Linked DNA regions of Homo sapiens: regions 1, 3 and 4 are each linked to region 2. The links come from fine-mapping of genetic effects on gene expression. A gene starts in region 2. Each other region holds a variant in brackets. All regions are shown on one strand. Distances are from middle to middle.

Evidence for each region. PIP is the estimated chance that this variant, and not a neighbour inherited with it, causes the effect.
Region 1: its variant is fine-mapped to the expression of STEAP3 in whole blood (INTERVAL, PIP above 0.99).
Region 3: its variant is fine-mapped to the expression of STEAP3 in whole blood (TOPMed, PIP above 0.99).
Region 4: its variant is fine-mapped to the expression of STEAP3 in whole blood (TOPMed, PIP above 0.99). The same link has a PIP of 0.9 or more in blood mononuclear cells.

The regions. Positions count from the first base shown.
Region 1 is chr2:119,319,656-119,324,431 of GRCh38, reverse strand. C2orf76 (chromosome 2 open reading frame 76) reads left to right here. Exons shown (of 6, transcript NM_001322331.2): 3 at 3,228-3,278. Among named protein-coding and RNA genes, the nearest start is that of C2orf76, 45 kb to the left of the region's middle. The variant G/ATG (reference allele first, on the strand shown) is at 2,579.
Region 2 is chr2:119,221,201-119,225,976 of GRCh38, reverse strand. STEAP3 (STEAP3 metalloreductase) reads right to left here and starts at 2,143. Exons shown (of 6, transcript NM_182915.3): 1 at 2,089-2,143. RefSeq lists silencers at 1,491-1,560, 1,621-2,400.
Region 3 is chr2:119,298,227-119,303,002 of GRCh38, reverse strand. C2orf76 (chromosome 2 open reading frame 76) reads left to right here. Exons shown (of 6, transcript NM_001322331.2): 6 at 455-778. The coding sequence ends at 531. Among named protein-coding and RNA genes, the nearest start is that of STEAP3-AS1, 52 kb to the right of the region's middle. The variant C/G (reference allele first, on the strand shown) is at 2,581.
Region 4 is chr2:119,260,752-119,265,494 of GRCh38, reverse strand. STEAP3 (STEAP3 metalloreductase) reads right to left here. Exons shown (of 6, transcript NM_182915.3): 6 at 1-2,438. The coding sequence ends at 2,157. Among named protein-coding and RNA genes, the nearest start is that of STEAP3-AS1, 14 kb to the right of the region's middle. RefSeq lists a silencer at 72-171. The variant G/A (reference allele first, on the strand shown) is at 1,752.

The DNA.
Region 1 (4,776 bases), 98 kb before region 2:
ATTCATAGGAAATAGTGACAAAAATAAGTTAAAAGACAAAACTATAATTGTAAAACCTGTTATGAAGGAAACAATATCAGAGAAGACCCCCGCTTTAGAAGGGTTGTCAGAGGAGATGGCACTTCAGTTAAGATGTAAAGGCAGGAAGAGAATAGGTGCTCGCTGTGTCCTGGTCGTTGTCTCTTCTCTCAGAAGTCTGGATTGAACATAAGACTGATTTGATTTCTTCAGTCGTAGACATCTCTAAATGATAATAGCTTCATGGGGCCATCTGTTCTTCACCTCACGGCTTTCTTCAGGGAGTTTCATTGTCTAATTCAGGAAATATAAATGTCAATACATTAAATGGAATTAATTCTCCTTTCTGATGTTGAATGAATACTGCTTTGGCCCATAATTCACAAATAATGGAGACACAAGAAGAATAAAATGAAGTACATATGCTCTGGTAAGCCTAAGCCAGAGGTTTCAAATTGGTATCTGGCAGGCAAATCCTGCCTCCAGAGAGGTTTCTTTTGGCCTATAGTGTTTTAAAAGTCAAGAAATTTCACCTAAAACCCTAGACTTGTAGCATTGCCATTTAAATCTTTAGGTGTGGCCACTCCAGGCTCATGTTCCTACAGCACTGTGATCAGTCAGCACTGACTGGCAGAGCCCCCTTTGATGGGCGCATGCTCTCAGATCTCACTGCCCCTCCTTGTTTGACCTGCTTCACTTACCTGTTGTCACCTGTCTGGCCTCTGGGTGAATTTGAGTACGAATCATCTCAGGGTTTTTTTTGTTTTGTTTTGTTTTGTTTTGTGTTTAAATATCTCTGCCTGGGACCAGCCTACCGTGAGTCAGATCCACTCGTGCCAGGCTGGGTGATCCTGACGTGCAGCCGGGGTGAGGACCACACTCCTAGGACCATAGCACTGGCTGGAAACGTACTTTTGTTACAGCATTCACCACTGGAGCACACGCTGTCATGAGTGGGCAGCTCCTCTTTTACTCTGTTCCTGGAATACCTGGTAGTAGGTGCTTTAAATGCTTGTAACATAAATTAATCAATTATATTTTAATTTGATACGTATTTGATCTTGAAAAAGCATTTTAAAAAAACCCACATTTCCTGACCAGGTGTAGTGGCTCATGCCTGTAATCCCAGCACTTTCGGGGCGAGGTGAGAGGATTGCTTGAGCCCAGGAATTTTAGATCAGCCTGGGCAACCTAGTGAAACCTGTCTATTAAAAAAAAAAAAAATGCCGGGACTATGGGCATGGTGCTGAGCGCCTGTAGTCCCAGCTACTTGGGAGGCTGAGGTGGGAGGATCGCTTGGGCCCAGGAGGTCAAGGCTACTGTGAGTATAATCACATCCCTGCACTCTAGCCTGGGCAACAGAGCAAGACCCTGTCTCAAAAACCTTCACATTTCCTAATTTAGATACGTGGATATTTTTTGTTTGTTTTACTTTTCTTTAGTAGGTAACACATTCATGTGGTTTTAAGATCAAAATGTGGAAAGGAATATAGTGAAAAGTCTCCTTTACCCTTCTGGTCTCTGTCTGACCAGTGCAGCACCCCCCTGCCCTCCCCACCCCCCACTCAGCAAGTACAAGCAAATCCCACCATAAATTCTCATTTTACCCCCTTTTTACTCAAAAGGTAGCTTCCTAAAAATAATGTTCTCTCATATCTCTTTAGCCTTGATGTAACTTGAAGATCTTATCATGTTAGTAGAGAGCTTCCTTCTTTTTCTTTTAACAGTTGAAAAGTATTTTTCATTGTTTGGGCATATTATGATTTACTTAACGAGTACCTAATTGAAGGACATTTGGACTTTTCCTAACATTTGCTGCTGTGAGCAATGCTGCAGTTAATACCCTTCTATGAATGTCATTTTACACACACTCGTGTGTAGTATAGTTCTATGATAATAAATTTCCGGCTGGGCATAGTAGCTCATGCCTGTAATCCCAGCACTTTGGGAGGCCAAGGTGGGCAGATTGCTTAAGTTCAGGAGTTTGAGACCAGCCTGGGCAACATGACAAAACCCCATCTCCACAAAAAAATACAAAAAATTGCTGGGTGCGGTGGCATGCACCTGTAATCCCAGCTACTTGGGGGGTTGATGCAGGGGGATCACTTGAGTCTGGGAGGTCGAGGCTGCAGTGAGCCATGTTTGTTCCACTACACTCCAGTCTGGGCAGCAAAATGAGACCCTGTGTCAATCAGTTAATCAATAAATTCGTTCATTCACTCATTGATTCTGAAGTGGAATGGCTAGGTCAAGGAGTATGTGCATATGTAATTTTGAGATATATATATATATACACATATATACACACATTTCTCTGTTAGGTGTTGTACCAGCAGATATTAATTAAAATTAGTACTGGCATTTGGAATATGTTTTTAAAAGAATATTTACTGTGTTTTGTTGTCTTTGAGGAGTTAGAGGAGTTATTTTGTTGGTTATATGAATTTTGGTGGAGTAATAAGATTGTTCTAGATCATTGGTTTCCACTAATGGCCAAAGACCCATAAGGGGCTCTCAGATTCATATGCTAAACAAACATCAGCTATATATATATATATAT[G/ATG]TCTCACACAAGTGTATTAGTATATATTTTAACTATACATAGATACTGTTGTCTAATGAAATTAAACATTCTTTTAATAGTGTTACTGAAGTCTTAGTTCAGATAGTAACAACTCAACATCTTGTCAATAGCTCTAATATTTTAGATGGTGATATGCTTTGGCCGTATCCCTACCCAAATCTCATCTTGCATTGTAGCTCCCATAATCCCCACCTGTCAGGGGAGGGACCTGGTGGGAGAGAATTGAATCATGGGGGTGGGTTTTTCCCATGCTGTTCTTACGGTAGTGAATAAGTGTCGTGAGATCTGATGGTTTTATAAAGGGCAGTTCCCATGCACAGACCCTCTTGCCTGGCGCCATGTTAGATGTGCCTTTGCTCCTCTTTCACCTGCCATGATTGTGAGGCCTCCCCAGTCCATTAAACATTTTTTTTAATAGATTACCTAGTCTTGGGTATTTCTTTATAGTGGTATGAGAATGGACTAATATAGATGGCCCTTGGATTTCGGTGATGTATTTATTCTGTGTTCTGTCAGGTTTTTCAAGGTAACTTAGTCTGTAGATAGAAAAGAATAGAACCAAAAGACTGTGCATATTCTATGAGTGTCTATTTGCTTATTGTGTAAAAAAATAATCTTTCTCTTGTAGATATCCCTTTAAGGACCAACCTGCCACCACCATTCAGAAATTATAAATATGGTAACCATTTTTTTATTCTTTTAAAATATATATAAATACAATTTTGCATTAGTTTGTTACAAACTTAAATTTTGTTTTCAAAAATGACTATCTGTAAATAAAAACCAATTTGGAAGTTTATTTAGAAATACAGGAATGCTAGTATATTGCTGAAATGAATTGTAATAGTAAGGAAGTGGCGTATTTGCAAAGAGTAGCATGTTTGCCAAAACTGTGTTTAAAACGAGTTTCTCTGCCAGGTAATTAGAAAAGGAAAAATGATTGAAGACTAAGAATTAAAAGAAGGGATTTAACATTTTAAATGCCAATAATTTGAGCATGTTATATAGTAGTTTTATGTGTTACAATTGATGATTTAAAAATGGAGTAATAAGGTAAGAAGCTAGATGTTGTCATTCATTATTTGTTATAAAGATGGCACAGTTATTAACCTTCAGCAGAGTGACACTCACCAAACTTTGAATTTGAGACTTCATTTGAAAGGTATGATGCACCTAATAAATATTTCTCTTAATTGGTGCAGACATTTTAAAGTATAAATTTTTTATTACCTTAGATTTTTTTTTGGAGTGGCTTTTCATTCTGTTCTCATTTGATAGAACAACTTATGACCTAAAATCCTTTGAAATCACAATCTTCGCCGTGTGTATGCATTTTAATATCCAGAAACTAATTGTGAGGTTATAAGGGGTAGTGAAGCAGAAGTTGAAGGCACTGAGTGGAAAGTACTTTGATTTATTGGGCTTAAAGAATTTACATACTCAATATTGAATAAGATAAAGGAATAAAAAGGATGATTAAGGTAAATATGAAACTTCTCAATTGTGGCTTTCAAGGCTTTCAAAGTATAATGTCTTGAAATATAGCCTTAAACTTGAATCAACTTACAGATGCCATTTTAAATTAGAATAGTTACATATGGTTTCCTTTTTTCATGGTGTGTGTGTATGTGTGTATCTATATGTCTATGTGCAAAGCTGTGTTCCATGTAAGTTCTTTTGAAAGAAATTTTAGATAATGAAAGCGTTAGAATATCCAAGTTGCTAAGCATTATTGTGGTAGATAATGTACCTTTTAGACTATTCTATCTTATTAACTTCCTTCTGCCCTAGTATTTCTATACTATTCAGATGAATTGGCAGAAAAAATGAATACATTTATTTGTGAAGAAATTATAGAACCACTCGAGTTTTGATAGACTTCAAGTGGCTTTGTCTGAACTTGGCTGTTTAACAATCTTCTGCTTTCTGTTGAACAAGAAAGGCTGCAGTGTTATTTTCACCTGTCATTGTCATCCGGGACTGCCACCTCACGGTCTGCGGGACAGGGCACTTTGTTAGGTATTCGGGAGTGGAAAGAGTGTGGAGTCAGATTTCAGTTTTGCCAGTCACTGTCTCCCTACCCTTTGGCAAAGGGCTGATTCTCTCTGCCACCAAGAGCCTGAGATATCTCAGAGCCCTCCTCCCATTTAATTGGCATCCACATCTATTATTGATTT
Region 2 (4,776 bases):
CTCACTGGTTAACTCGCAAACCTGAGGTGAAGAAGGAGGGATCCGATATTTACTGCACTCCTAAAACTCAGCACTTCACACACTTAGTCCCCCAAATAGGCATACTTGTTTTATGAGGATATCCTGTTTGAAGCCCTTGGCAAGGTTTTGCAAATAAACAGAGGTTCAGAGAGCTGAGGGCTTCATGTTACGGGGTAAGGAGCTGAGATTTGGACTCGTCCATCTGACTCCAAAGCCAGACTATCCCCAGCACTCAGCCAGCGACCTTTTGCCCACTCAGCTCTCAGGTGTGCGCCTTTGGACTTCACTCAAGAACTTTCACTTTTTAACCACCTGAAGCCCTGCCCAGCACCTTGGTCTCTGATAAGTCCAAGAAGGGAAGGGCTGTGGGCCAAGGATAGGAGATATGAATGGGAGAGGAATCTACCTGTTTGACATCTCTAGGCTGGAGAGGGAACATGTGTGATCCCAGCTTGACCTGGCCTGGTCCTGGGGACCTCAGCAAACCTGGGGCAGGCTGTTCAACCCCCAGGTGGACAAGTGGCCCAGCCTGAGCTCCCTGCTGGCTCTGAGGCCAGCATTAGACTGTGTCACTTCCATACCTGCTGCCGGATTGCCTGGCTGAGGCCACCTGCTCCATTTAAGCCCCCTTCAGGACACTAGTGACACCATCTACCCCACCCCGCCCACTTACCCATTAGACATTCACTAAGCACCTGCTCCTTGCCAGCCCCTCTGCAGGCCACCAGGGACAGAGATGAGTAAGACATAGTCTGGGTCCTCCAGGTGCCCCTAGCTGATTCAGTCAGCTTCGGATGGGACTTGGGGATCTATATTTTTAACAAGCCTTGCAGGTGACTGAGAGGACACACCCAGGTGAGACCCTTTGGTTTTGTGGACCTTCTGGCTCTCAGCACTGTATTCTTGGGGCTGCCAGAATCCCCGTGAGGACACAGCCTGTTTCGCCCCAGTGGTAGGTTCCTCTGGGCTCCAAGTCAGATAACTCTGGGTTCAAATTCTACTTCTGCAACTTCCTAGCTGTGTATCCTTGCAAAATACGTGGACTCTCTGAGGCTGTTTCCCCATTTTTAACAAGAGATAATGGTGCCTTCCTGTTGTGAGGATTAACTGGGATATTGTGCTCAAAGCCCTTAGCAAGATGCCTGGCACACATAAATGGGAATATCTGCTGTTAATTATATTATGGCTGCACTCTGATGGACAGAAATACCTCCCTGGGGGCATTTCCAGAATCCCCACTTCTGGAGCCCATCTCTGAGGTGGCCCTGGATATTTGGGAGGCCTCTCTGTGCCCTCTGCCAGGGCTCCAGCGGGACCTTCCTGCTTCTCCCCACGGATCCGGCTTTCTGGTCCCCAAACCGCATATTATCTGGGCACACCCTCCCCTTCATTTACCCAGAGTGACCAAAGTTCCAACCACACCTCTCCGGGCAGCCTGTCCCCAAATTTCGGGGAAGTGGGCAGGAGGGGGAGCTTTGCCGGGCAGGAGGGGGAACTTTGCCAGGCAAGGGCTCCGCGGGCAGAGGCGGGCACTGGTGAGGCCAGCCTCCTCCTGGGGACCAAGGTCGGGCGCCCCTGCCCAGCCCCTGCACCTGCCCCTGTCCCTGCCCTGTTCGGCTGCGAAGGGACTGGGAGGTCTGGCGAGGAAGAGCCTGGAAGATCCCCGCCCACAGCTACCAGCCCTCCTTTGGGACCGCTGGCCAGAGCCCCAGCCGTGGGGCACACGGGACCTGTGGACTCAGCCGGGGTCATCCGGAGGGGCGCCCACATCTGCACCCGGGGCTCCGGAGCCTGCTCCCCGCCACTGTCGCCGCCGGCCCTGCCTAACCTGCGCGGCGCAAGCGGCTTCCACGCCTAGGGAAGGAAGGCACACGGGGTGGGGGCCCCGGAACCCGGTTTCTCTGCCGCCGGGCGCACGTGGCTCGGTCCCAGGGGACAGAAGTCGCCTCCAGACGTGTGGCGGCACCCGAGGTCCGCGCAGCGACGGCGCAGGGTGCAACCGGGCGGGCGTCTCGGGGACCGGGCGCAGCACGCAGCCCCGCGGAGACCGGGGGAGGGTACACTCACCTCTGCGGCCCGCCGCTCGGAGCGACCGCGGCAGCTGAAGGTCCGCGGCGAAGGCGGTGGCTCGGCCCGAGGCTCCTCCTCCCCCGCGCCCCACCCGCCCGGGAGGGCCGGACCTGCAGGGGAGGTGGCCGCCCTCCAGCCCGCCGCAGCTTATCCGGCTCGGCCACCTCCCCCGGGGCCGCAATCAGGAGCCGCCGGGTCCTCGCTCCCCGCCCAGCCCTGCACAGCCCCGGCAGCGGTGGCAGCGTCCAACCACCCTCCTCCCCTGGCCCCAGGCGGGAGGTCGCCAGCCGGCGCCAACACTTCCTGATTTGCAGTGCCCGGCACACGGCTGAAGTGAGCAGAACTCCGGGACCTCCTCTTAACCCGGCCACGGAGGGCACCGAGGCCAGGGTGACCTCTAGGCCCCCCTCTCTTAACCTGAGGAGCACCTCGAATCCTTGTCCATTTTATAACCGAGGCCAAGTGGCAGCCACGGTTGCAGGTGGGAAGAGACCAGGGCTCCAGATTGGGTCCGGATCCCTTCCCTCTCAACAAGGTTGCGCCCAGGCCTTTGTGGTCCCCCCCCAATCTCTGTCCCTTGTCCACCCTTAGGGCAGACTTTTGACCCTTCCCAGCAGTCCTCAGGTTCCAAGACCGGTGGGATGGCGGGTACCTTTCTCCCGGAGCTGCCTCCCTGTCTAGGCCTTCTGGGCTCTGAAACCCTACCCGTCCCCCCTTCCCCCTGGGGCACTGCCCGCTGCCCTCCGCACTTCCAATGCCGATGGCTTCACAGCACTGCAGCGAAGCAGGGCGTAAGTAAGGGGAGGCTGTCTGTGGGCACCTCTCTAGAGGTGTGCGCCCTGGTCCGAAGCCCCTTCTCACCTGTGGTCACATTTGCCGGCTGCAGTTATTTTCTTTACAGGTGAGGAGACCCGGGCTTTTCCGCTCAGATTCGTGGAGGCTGAGTGGGGGTTCCTGACCCCTGGTACTCTTTCTAGAGTATTCCTGGGAGACATACACTATTAGCCTCTGATAAGGAGCTTCAGGTTATTTTTAGGAAGTCTAAGAATCCTGTTTTCTGGGGAGCCAGCCTCTGTTGGGGAGATAAGCCTCCGGAGGCCAGAGGCAGGAGCTGGGCCTCAAGGAAGGCCCCACAACTGGACCCCAAAGGGCACGGTGGGGAGGAAGAGGCAGAGCTCTGGTCTCCCTGTGGAGGGAGTGCTGCTGTAAAGCGCCTTTCCCTCCACCCCCAACTCCCGCCGAGAACCCCCCCACCCCCGCAGGCAGTTTGCTTTCCCCCTCCACAGCTTTCCTCCTACCCGAATACCCACCTCCCAGCTCTCTGCTCAGCCAGGGCCCAAGGCCAGAGCCTCTCTTCTCTTGCAAGAACTTTCCTGTCCCACCTTGCCCCAGGGCAACACCTCTTATGGCAATTCTTACAGGTCCTTTATCCATTCAACACTCACAGTGCCCCAGGTGCCAGACAGTGCTCCCAGTGCTGGAGACACACGTGCCCAATGGAGGTTCCTGCCCTTAGGGTGCCAGGGCTGGTGAGTGGCCCCTGCAGTGGGTTGTAAACTTTGAGAAGACAAGACCCAGTTCCTAGCCCCCTCTGGTGCCCCTAATATGCTCCCCCTGCAGTAGCTGTTCTTTTGATGCCTGCTCCTGCTGATGGGGATGGCTGAATAGCCTTCCTTTAATGCCCAAGGACAGCACAAGGAAACCGAGCTTGGGAAATGCAAACACTGAGAGGTCTTCCAGCATCTTTGGAAGAATCCCTGGGAACCAGTGTCTTTTTGTGGGGCTCTCCATGCATGAGTAAGAGAGAGGAAGACTTTTTTTTGAGGCGGGGAAGCGGGGCTCTCCATGAGTAAGAGAGACAGGGGGAGACATTTTGAAGGCTGGGCTGCCAGAGGTCTATAGAGGATTATCTTAAAAGGAACATGAACTCCTGCTGGAAAAAGTAGAGGGGTCTGAAATTTCTCACAGACAGGGAGGGAGGTGAATACCCTACTTGGGCCCACACACTTTGGCAGAGAGGCCACCGCCCACGCCGTTGACCTTTGGTGCTTGTTCTGTCCACTGACCGTTGGACTAAGGGGGCCTTGAGTGTGAGCTTGTCTCACCTGGCATGGGGTCAGGTGTTTCCAGAAGCTTGAGAGCCAAATTTCCCAAAGCAGACGAGCCCTTTCCTACTCCAGGGAGGAGTGCAATGTGCTGAGCTTTGTTGAGCACCTTCTATGGGCCAGACTCTGGTGTCCTCTGCCAAGGATAGAACAGTCAGAGCCATCCTTGCAAGATGTTTGCCAGATCGCATTTCTCCTCTGCTCAAAACTCTACCCCCTCCCCCAGCAAAAGTAAAGTCCTTGCAATAGCCGTGGCCCAGTGTGATTGGCCTTCTCTCTGCCCTCATCCTCTGTCTCCCTCTCTCTGCTCACATTCAGTCCCACCTCAGATGAATCTGACAGGATCCTGACCCCTGCCGTTCCCCTTGCCTGGACCCTAGGCATCCCCAGGTACCCTCCCTACCTCCTCCAAGTCTTGGCTGAAAGGTCATCATTTCTGTGAGGCCCACGCTGATCGCCCCCATTCCTCATCCATGTACCTGCTTGCTTTCTTTTTTTCCCCATAGCCTGTATTACCTCTGAACACACTATAAAATAGAGTTTTTTGGACTGTTTTTCAGTAACTGTCTTCTCCCATAGA
Region 3 (4,776 bases), 77 kb before region 2:
GATCCTCTAAGTATTAAATTATTATACCTACAGGCTAATTTCAGGGGGGGAAAAGAGTTTTCCCTCCCCTTCCTTCAGTACCTGAGTAGCATATTTGAGAAAAAAATCAAGGTTTTTTATTTCCTAGCACTGTAAAAAAGACTGTAAATGAGCAATTTTATGATTTCCTGAAAACCAGATTCTTGTATTAACTCTTGATTTTAATTTTTGGTTTTTTATTTTTTGTTCTTTTTTACTTTTAAATCATTTGAGGTTTTGATTCTTAAAACTTCACCTGAAACTTCTTGTTGATTTGGTAAAATGCATTGTGCGACCCAACAAATAACTCATCTTTTTCACTTTGGGCATCTGAAGCTATTCTGAAATACCGAATCAAAGTCATATGGATTTCCATACTTGTTTAAAATTTAGATTTACATTAAAATCTTTTTTTCCATTTTCTGTTTTTTTTCAGCCAGTGAAACTGAAATTGCATTCTTCTGTGAAGAAGATTATAAGAACTACAAAGCTAATCCCATTTCATCCTGGTGAAAACATCTCGAGGGCTTCCTTTTTGCATACCTGTATTAAGCTCTTTATTCCACTGCTGAATTTTTGAAATTGACAAACAAATCTTAAAAAATTAATCCCAGGCTATACTCTTTGAGCTAAAATCTGGTTATTTCTTTCTCTTCAGGTCTTTCCTTCTCTCTTTCTTTTTCTTTGTTGTTGTAAAATAATATATTATGAGAAAAACATTTGATCTTTTTAAAGGGAAATAAATTGTTATTAAAAATTATTGTGGAATATTGATTCTTAAATTATAATTTGTTTTCTAAAATTAGGAATTATTTTTGTGACTTGCATGTAGAGCTCCTTAAAAAGATTCTAAGACTAAGATCATACTGTTTATTGTATATTTTTTCTGTAGTTTCTAATTAGAGCAACTGTTTCTGTCTGTGGCTACCAGAAATTCTGAGTTTCTTGACCTTCATGGCTACCTTTTAGTTCAGGGTGTGTGATACATACCACCATATGTGCAATTGAATTGTGTATATTTTAGGGAGGTTTTATGATGTAGGAAGGTTACTTTTTTTTTTTTTTTAAAGTATTGCAGCCTATACAAATAATGTTGCTGATTTTTTTTTTTCTTTTCTTTCTTGAGCTGTGTTTTCCATCTTCAGGAAGAAACTATCATAGAATCAAACTCATTTATTTGGAGAGAGGAAGCGGCAGGATGCTTGCACTTCTGGAAGAAAATTGTTCATTGAGAACAAGTCTATGTCCTGGAAGATACATTCCTTCTAAATAATATAATACTTGTGGTTCCTGATTATGGCTGACCGCCAGCACCTGTGGAGTCCTTATTTCAGAGGCCTTTCAGTCAGGCTGCATTTAATCAGAACTCCTGGAGAGCTTAGCTAGCTCTGCCATTGCTCCCTGAGTCCTGGAGAGCTTAGCCAGCTCTGCCATTGCTCCCTGAGTGCCGGAGAGCTTAGCCAGCTCTGCCATTGCTCCCTGAGTGCCGGAGGGCTTAGCCGGCTCTGCCATTGCTCCTTGAGTCCTCAGAGTTGCCAGGAGGGCAAATTGGTTTCATTATGGTCACGTCTAACTTAAGAAAACCTATGATTTCTTAACAAATCAACTTTGAAACTCTGATTAACATGATTAGAAGATGCCTTGCTTTGTTGAAAAAGTTAATAGGGTCTTCTTTAAGATAAATTCTACTTATTTTATTCATTGTTTCATTCAGGAGCAAAGTGTTGAATACACAGATGATGTAGTTTTGGGGGAGTTAATAAAGAGGAAAATAAGACCCAGTTTTTGCCTCAGTGAATGGAGAAAGACATAGTACAAGCAAATGATTTTAAGAATAGCAGAAAAAGCTGCCATCAGAGCATTGTTGACAGAAATTAGTTGTGTGTGTGTGTGTGTGTGTGTGTGTGTTTTTAAGAAGTACCAGTTGAGCTGTGTCTTAGAAGATTGAATGGGAATTTTTGCTTAGAAGAAAAGAAGGGAAAGGCTTTCTGGAAGAGGGAATAGCATACACAAAGGCAAAGGACTGTGAAAGAGCTTGAGGTTTCAGGAGAAAGCGCAAATTTTAGTGTCCCTGACTTTTATAGATGGTGCAACTTAATGATGTTTCGACCTTATAGTGGTATGAAAGCAGTAGGCATTCAGTAGAAACACTGAGTACCCATACAGCCATTATGTTTTCCACTTTCAGTGCAGTATTCAATAAATTACATGAAATATTTAATACTTTACAATAAAATCAGCTTTGTGGTAGATGATTTTGCCCAACTCTAGGCTAATGTAAATGTTCTGAGCATATGTAAGGTAGATTAAGCTAATGCAATGTTTGATAGGTTAGGTGTATTAAATGCATTTTTCACTTAGATAATATTTTCAACCAACAATGAGTTTATTGGGACTAACCCCATTGTAAGTTGAGGAGCATCTATACAGGAGTGTAAAGTACATGGAACAGAGTAGAGGAAGATAAGGCCAGAAAGGTAGGTTGAGGTAGGCCTTACAAGTCATGCTAAGGAGTTAGAACGGTATCTAGTAGGTAGATGGGAGCCAGTAGCATGATTTAAA[C/G]AGGTATTTGATTCCATTTATATTTTAGAAAGTGAGCTTTGTCAGCAATGTCCAGGTGGCAGAAAGACTAGAAGACATCATTGAGCAGGTGAAGTTTGGAAGGCCTGGCCTAGGGCAGGGGCCGAGGGGAAGAGGAGGATTGGGGAGGTTCTTGGTGTTACCATGTGATCGTGCGTTCCGTGGCAAATATGGTGTGGTAGTTAATTTACATATGTTATCTCATTTGACTTTTACCACAGTTCTTCAATGGTAGCATGTATATTTATAGATGAAGAAATTGGGGCCCAGAGAGGTAAAGTTATTTGCTCAAGAGAATGCAGTCATGTGCAATGGGATTGGAACCAAATCTGTCTTAAAATCCTGACTTCCCCCATTCCATCCTGCAGCCTCCCAGTGGAGACCTGAGGTAGAATGACCTTAGAATGTTTGGGACCTGGTGAATGCCTGGACGGGGATAGTGTGGGGAGGAAGGAATGGAGACTTCAGTGATTCTTGCTGGAGTTGAGTGGCTGGATTAATGATGGCAGCAGTAATCCAAATAGGGAACTCAATAAGTAGAGGTTAAAACATATTCCATTTGTTTGCTTTGCACGCATTCAATTTGCATACCAGGCTTTTTTAAAATATAAAATTAAGCATATCTTTACCTGTGCATTTTTAAGTAGATAATGCAAAAATATGTATGTATAGTACCTTTTTTGGTATGTATTTTTCTTATAAAAGGTACATATAGAGTATTTTCACTTATAAATACAGAAAAAAAATCAAAAATAAATGTATCAACAGCAACCACCAGAAACTAGAAGAGGCAAAGAAGGATTGTTCCCTAGAGCCTGCAGAGGGAGCAGAGCCCTGCTGACACCTGGATTTCAGACTTGTAGCCTCCACAGCTATGAGAAAAGACATTTCTGTTGTGTTTACAATAAATAAAAATGTATTGTGACTAAAAAGGACTTTTACCAGGAATGGAAGATTGATTCAAAATTAGAAAATCTCTCAATATACTTTTCAAAATCTATATAGGAGAAAAAATATTATGTTTATCTCAATAGATGCCAAAAGGCATTTGATGATATTCTTGCTCATGCATATATAAAAATTAGCAAGGGAAAGAAATACCCTTAACTTGATGAAGTTTGCTCATAGAAAACCTACTTAATGGAGAAGTGTTTCAGCAAATCTATTAGATATGAATAAGAGGCTGCGGCTGGGTGCATTGGCTTAGGCCTGTAATCTCAGCCCTTTGGGAGGCTGAGGCGGGAAGATTGCTTGAGCTCAGGAGTTCGAGACCAGCCTGGGCAACAGGATGAAACCCCGTCTCTACAAGAAAAAAAAAAAAATTAGCTGGGTGTGGTAATTTGCCCCTGTAGTTCCAGTTACTTGGGAGGCGGAGGTGGGAGGATCCCTTGGGTCCAGGAGGTCAAGGCTGCAGTGAGCTGTGATTGCACCACTGCACTCCAGCACAAAAAATATGAATTAGACAAGAATGAACACTATTGCCAGTACTATTCAGTATGTTTCTGCAAGTCTTATTGTAGCCAGTAGGAAAAATAGTAAGATTCTCAGATATTGGAAAGGAGTAGGCAAAACATTCATTTGTAGACAATATGATTGCAAGAAGATTAAGTTTTTTTTGAACTAAGAGACTTGAGTGCTGAACCTAAAATGTATTGTTCACAAAAGCTATAAAATAGTGTTATTAGATGAGTATAAAAGACCTGAATAGAGATAGATTACATGTTTATAGATGGAAGATACCTACCTAATCCATAAATAAATGCAGTCTCAATCAAAATCCCAAAGGATTTATCATGGAACTTGACAAATTGATTTTTAAATTCATTTGGAAGAAGAATATGCAAGAATAGCCAAGATCAATTTGGAAAAACAAAACGTAGGCTAGAAGAAAGGGTGGTTGCCTACTAGATGTCAAAATAGATTCAGTGATCAAAACAAGTTGGTAATGATACAGAACTAGATAAAATGATCAATGGAATAGAATATGGAAACTAATAAAATTTACATGGAAACAATAGCTAATAAAGGTAGTATTTGTAATTATGAGGAAAAGGAAGATTATTTAGCACATGGCCAAGTATTTAAAAAAAACAGTTAAGGGTCCTACTTCATACCATTCACTAAAATTTCAGATGGGTTAAATAACTAAACATGAAAAACAAGATGATGAGTTTATTA
Region 4 (4,743 bases), 40 kb before region 2:
CAGAGGCACATGGAATTTACCAGGCTGTGGAGATGATGTGCTCTCGGGATGCTGCTGCCAGTAGCCTGGTGAGGTAGGGAAGACAGCAGTGGACGCACAGTCAGGGCCCAGTACACAGCCCGCCTGCCTTTCGTGTGATTGTCCAGCAGGTGGCACCTGTTCCCTCCTGCCACCCACCTTATAATTGCTTCCCTCTTGAGCACCTTCAGCCAGAGGTGGGTGGGAAGGGGAGGACGTGCACTGGGTTCTGCTATGTGCCAGCATCTTTGGTATAAGGAGCCATTCCCTGGCCCAGGGCAGGCAGCCAGTACCCACCGGGGTTGGGGATCATTGGTGGGTCTCCATTGCCCATGCTCTCCCTGCCTCTCATTAGTAGGGAATCGATGGGCCCTTGTTATGCCAAGGCAATGCTAAAATCTCTGCTTTACCTGCCCCCTTCTCAGCAAGGCTCTCTGTGGGCCACAGCTGATGCTCCATCAGTGCCAATTTATGAGACAAGTTTCTGCCGCTCAGCCTTGGCACAGCAGATGGAAAATACCTGCAGGAAGAGCTTCCCCGGCATGGCCTTCCCTGCATCGGTCATGTGCCTAATGAGCTATCCTTGCAGTGGGCTCTTCTCCTGCTTTTCACTGAAGAACCCTTATGTGCTGCATAGACATGAGCTCATGAAACCTCCCTGGCGGGGGGGGGGCAGGGGCAGCCTCATCTGTGACATTCTCTCTGGGCAGCCTTCACTGGCCCTACTCTCTTCCTTCCATCAGAAGATGGCTTTGGGCCCAGGAGACTCATGAAGACCTCACCCTCTTTGTCTTCAAAGATGCTTTTTCTGTGGCAGATCAACCTGGTTCTGCAGAGGGTTGGGGGCTCAGCCGAGAACACCTGTTTCTTCACAGGGGAAGTAAGCTAGAGTCAGTAGGGAGCAGCAAGGATGGCCTGTGACTGGAGGACAGACGTCCTGTGGCCCCGGCGGTGCTCTTCCCTCTTGTGCTTTGGGGCAGCAGCATTTTAGGTTTGTAGCTTTGGTGGAAAAGTTGCTCCCCACTGTTTTGAAGTGTAATGCCCCATGAGGAGGAAGTTGGAGCCAGTGTGGTTTTCTGGGTCCTCTGCCAGAGGACATTTGGAGTCCCCAATATTTTTCCTCAGGACTGACTTCGTGAAGACAGTCCTTCAGCCCAGGCAGGGCTCAACTCTGACGCCCGGGGAGCTTTACTCCCTAGAGTGTTTTCTCTTGCTCTCCCCCTTGGGCTGATTTCTAAAGGGTCTGCTCTAGGCCTTCCTGGGAGTCATTCAAACTGAAGATGGAAAGGGTGAGAAGGCACAGTGGTTTAAAGGACGCTCATCGCCAGGTTAAAGGAGGGAAGGAAATTACACTTGTTCCCAAGCCAGGCTCACTAATGGCTCTGGAAAGGAGGTGACGTCACTCTCACAGGAGGATCCATTTGCAGGCTCTATGGTGACTTCTGACTTTCAGGGAAAATGTCTCCCCCACTCAGCAAGGATGAGGTGGAGCAGCTTCAGCCCAATCCCTCCATCCTCCCACCACCGGGCAAAGGACCAGGCACAGACTCCAGGCCGACTGCCTGATTTTCCTCCTCCCCAGGCCTCCTGCTGCTGCCCCAGGTGGAGGGAAGAGACCAGCCGCTGCTCACATGCTCCAGGGATGGCTCTGGGCAGAGCCGTTGCCTTCCCTCCCCTTCAGAGCCCTAGCTCTGCAAGAGCCTTGGGGAAGTAGCAAAAGGGAAGTTGTGGGG[G/A]TGGGGTGGGCAGGGATAAATCGAACCCACCACAGCACAAGCCTCTTCTGTACAAAAAGTGTGTGTATATCTCTGCAAATGTCACAATAGCATGATCTGCTCTTCTCTTAACGTACGGCACTTGTTTTTAAATCTACAAGTTGAAATCTCAGAGACCCAACTTTTTAGCTAGCTATGTATAATTGCAAATCCTGTTATATATGTGGAATATATGTAAATACATATACACATATGTGTGTATATCATTCTGAATAGTACTGCATACATTTGAGTCCCAGGAATTTGGACCTCAAACCTCCTATTTGCACACAGTTATACCACTTTGCACCACCAAGAAAAGAAAACCTAACGGGCTCAGGGCACCGTCCCTCGTGTGCCCGGGGTCCAGAGCCCAGGGCAGGCACCTCATACGTGGCTCGTCTTCTCGGCCAGGGCGTGGTCTGTGGGCAGCGTGAACTTGATGGTGCTCTCCCTCTCCCAGCCTCTCCGGATCCTGGCGAGTCTGCGGCTGATGCAGGGCAGGAGAAACAGGGCTTTGGCCAGGATGACGACGCAGGGCACCAGCAGCGTGAGCGTGAAGGTGGGAGGCAGGTAGAACTTGTAGCGGCTCTCCTCGAAGGCGCGGGTCCAGCCGTAGGTGAGCGTGTGCAGTGTGCTCAGCACGAGGGCCACAAAGCCCAGTGAGGACTGTGGAGGGAAAAAAAGGCTGGAGTGAGGGCGAGGGGATGACAGATGCAGTGATCCTGCCAACGACTCATCTGCTGGCCTGGCGGAGGGGAAGGAGGGTGGCTTTAGTACTCACCGCTATGGGTTGGAACCCCAGTCCTGTCACTCTCTTAGTGTGATCTTATGATAACTCTCAACTCTCTGTGCCTCAGCTTCCACAACAGGAAAATGGGAATAATGCTTCTATGCTGAAGGTGTCTAAGGACCCACCAATTCACACGGATTCCATACAATAACTATATGACCATGCTTTTTCCTTAACTTTGTTATTTGTTATCTCTGGAGGCTGCTGGATGATTTCAGATGGAATTAAGTTCAAAGAAGTTTAAAAAACATTTAAGGCCTGCTGCGGTGGCTCTCGCCTGTAATCCCAACACTTTGGGAGGCCTAAGTGGGTGGACTGCTTGAGCCCAGGGGTTCAAGACCACCCTGGGCAACATAGTGAGACCCTGTTTCTACAAAAAATACAAAAAAATTAGCCAGGCTGTGGCAGCATGTGCTTGTTGTCCCAGCTACTTGGGAGGCTGAGATGGGAGGATCACTTGAGCCCAAGAGGTCAAGGTTGCAGTGAGCCAAGATTGTGCCACTGCACTACTGCACTCCAGCCTGGGTAACAGAGCAAGACCCTGTCTCTAAATATATATATACATATACATGTATATGTGTGTGTGTGTGTGTGTGTATAAATTTTACTAGTTATGTGTGTATTTTAATGTATATTAGAGTAACAAGTGTCTGCTTGCATACCAAAATCATAATTTCACAGATAACATTTGGCCTAAGTTAAGATCAGACAAAAAGTGGATTGATTTTAAATTAGCTTGAAGATAAATGCAGAGTAAATAATTTACAGATGGCACGTGGATTTGGCACCAGTAGCGAAGGGGACTCACGGGGCCTGTGGTCTGGGTGACCTGGCACCGTATAGAAAGCCCCAGAACACCACACAGATGCCCTCTGTGCATGCTAGACCTTCACCTCCCACCCCACACTGGGTTATAAACAACCCGGGTGGAAACCCCGCTGGGCCTACTCTTCCATCTGGAGGAGATTAGTGACCGTTGGGAGAAGAGACCATCCCAACTCTAAATGGAAATGGTCCCGGCCATTTTACAATGGAGCTTCACACCCCTTGAACAATGTGTGGGCTTTTGTGGGTCACTTCCAGCCGAGAGTGGCTGATCCACCACCCAAAGCATGACTTTCTGTAAGAGATGCAATGTGAAAATGGCTGGGAAGTGCTGCTCTATGACTCCAGCCTCTTGGCATGTACGAGTTCTCGTGGACCACGAAGGAAGAGATGCAGGTTCTACTGTTGGTGCTGGTTCAACTGATATGAACCCTGGGCAGGCGACTTAATCAACTTCAGTGGGAGATAAGTAATTTCCAAAGCTAAAGTCAGAGGGGGAAGCGCTGAGTAGTTGCAGTAGCCTCCATCTAGTCCCCTAGACAGGGCAGGCAAGTGACACAGCAGAGGGCACCGAGAGCGAGGGAGTCGTGGCACAGGGGTGCTCTGACTGAATTCTGCTAGCACTGGTGAGCCACTGAGAGCTTTGGGAGAGACCTCCCACGTCTATTACACAGGGATGGAAATAGCGATGACCCATCAAGCAATGAACACATATGCATTTTCTCCAAGGAGACATTGCGAGGGTGTAATTTAAGTGTGGCGGCACACTGAGACCTCTGGGTGGTCTGCATGGACTGAGCCTCCTGGATTCCCTTCTAGCCCAGCTTGTTGGCATCAATCCAGAGCCTCGGCTGACAGACGCTTCTCATTTGCACTCCCCTCAGAAGTGTTTCTAAGTGGGTCTGATTCCACATTGGGCCCCGTTCTTGCTCCTCCCTGGTGTGTGTGTGTGTGTGTCCCTTCATTTCCTGCTCCAGGACAGACACCAGGACAGTGAACGTCAGTGAGTGAAAGAACATGGTGTGGGAGAATTGCTTGTAAAGCTTTTGCTAAAGATAATAATAAACATTTTCCAATGGCTGCACACTACAATTTCACAGACAGGTTCTCACGTTCAACATTCTTGGGCCCAAGTAAAATAACCAAATAAAACCTTCTCTATCCTTCCTCACCCTCTCTGGTTCTTCTTGGCTTTGTGTCCATTTTTGGAATCTTCTTGGCCCAGTCTTTAACAACTTCTGGCTCACCACGAAGAGTGAGGAAGCCACGATTGGCTTTATGCTGTCACCCACAGTGAATTCCTATCATTTTAATGTGGTCACCTCCCAAAGAGAAGACTCCTTGACTGTCAGTTGC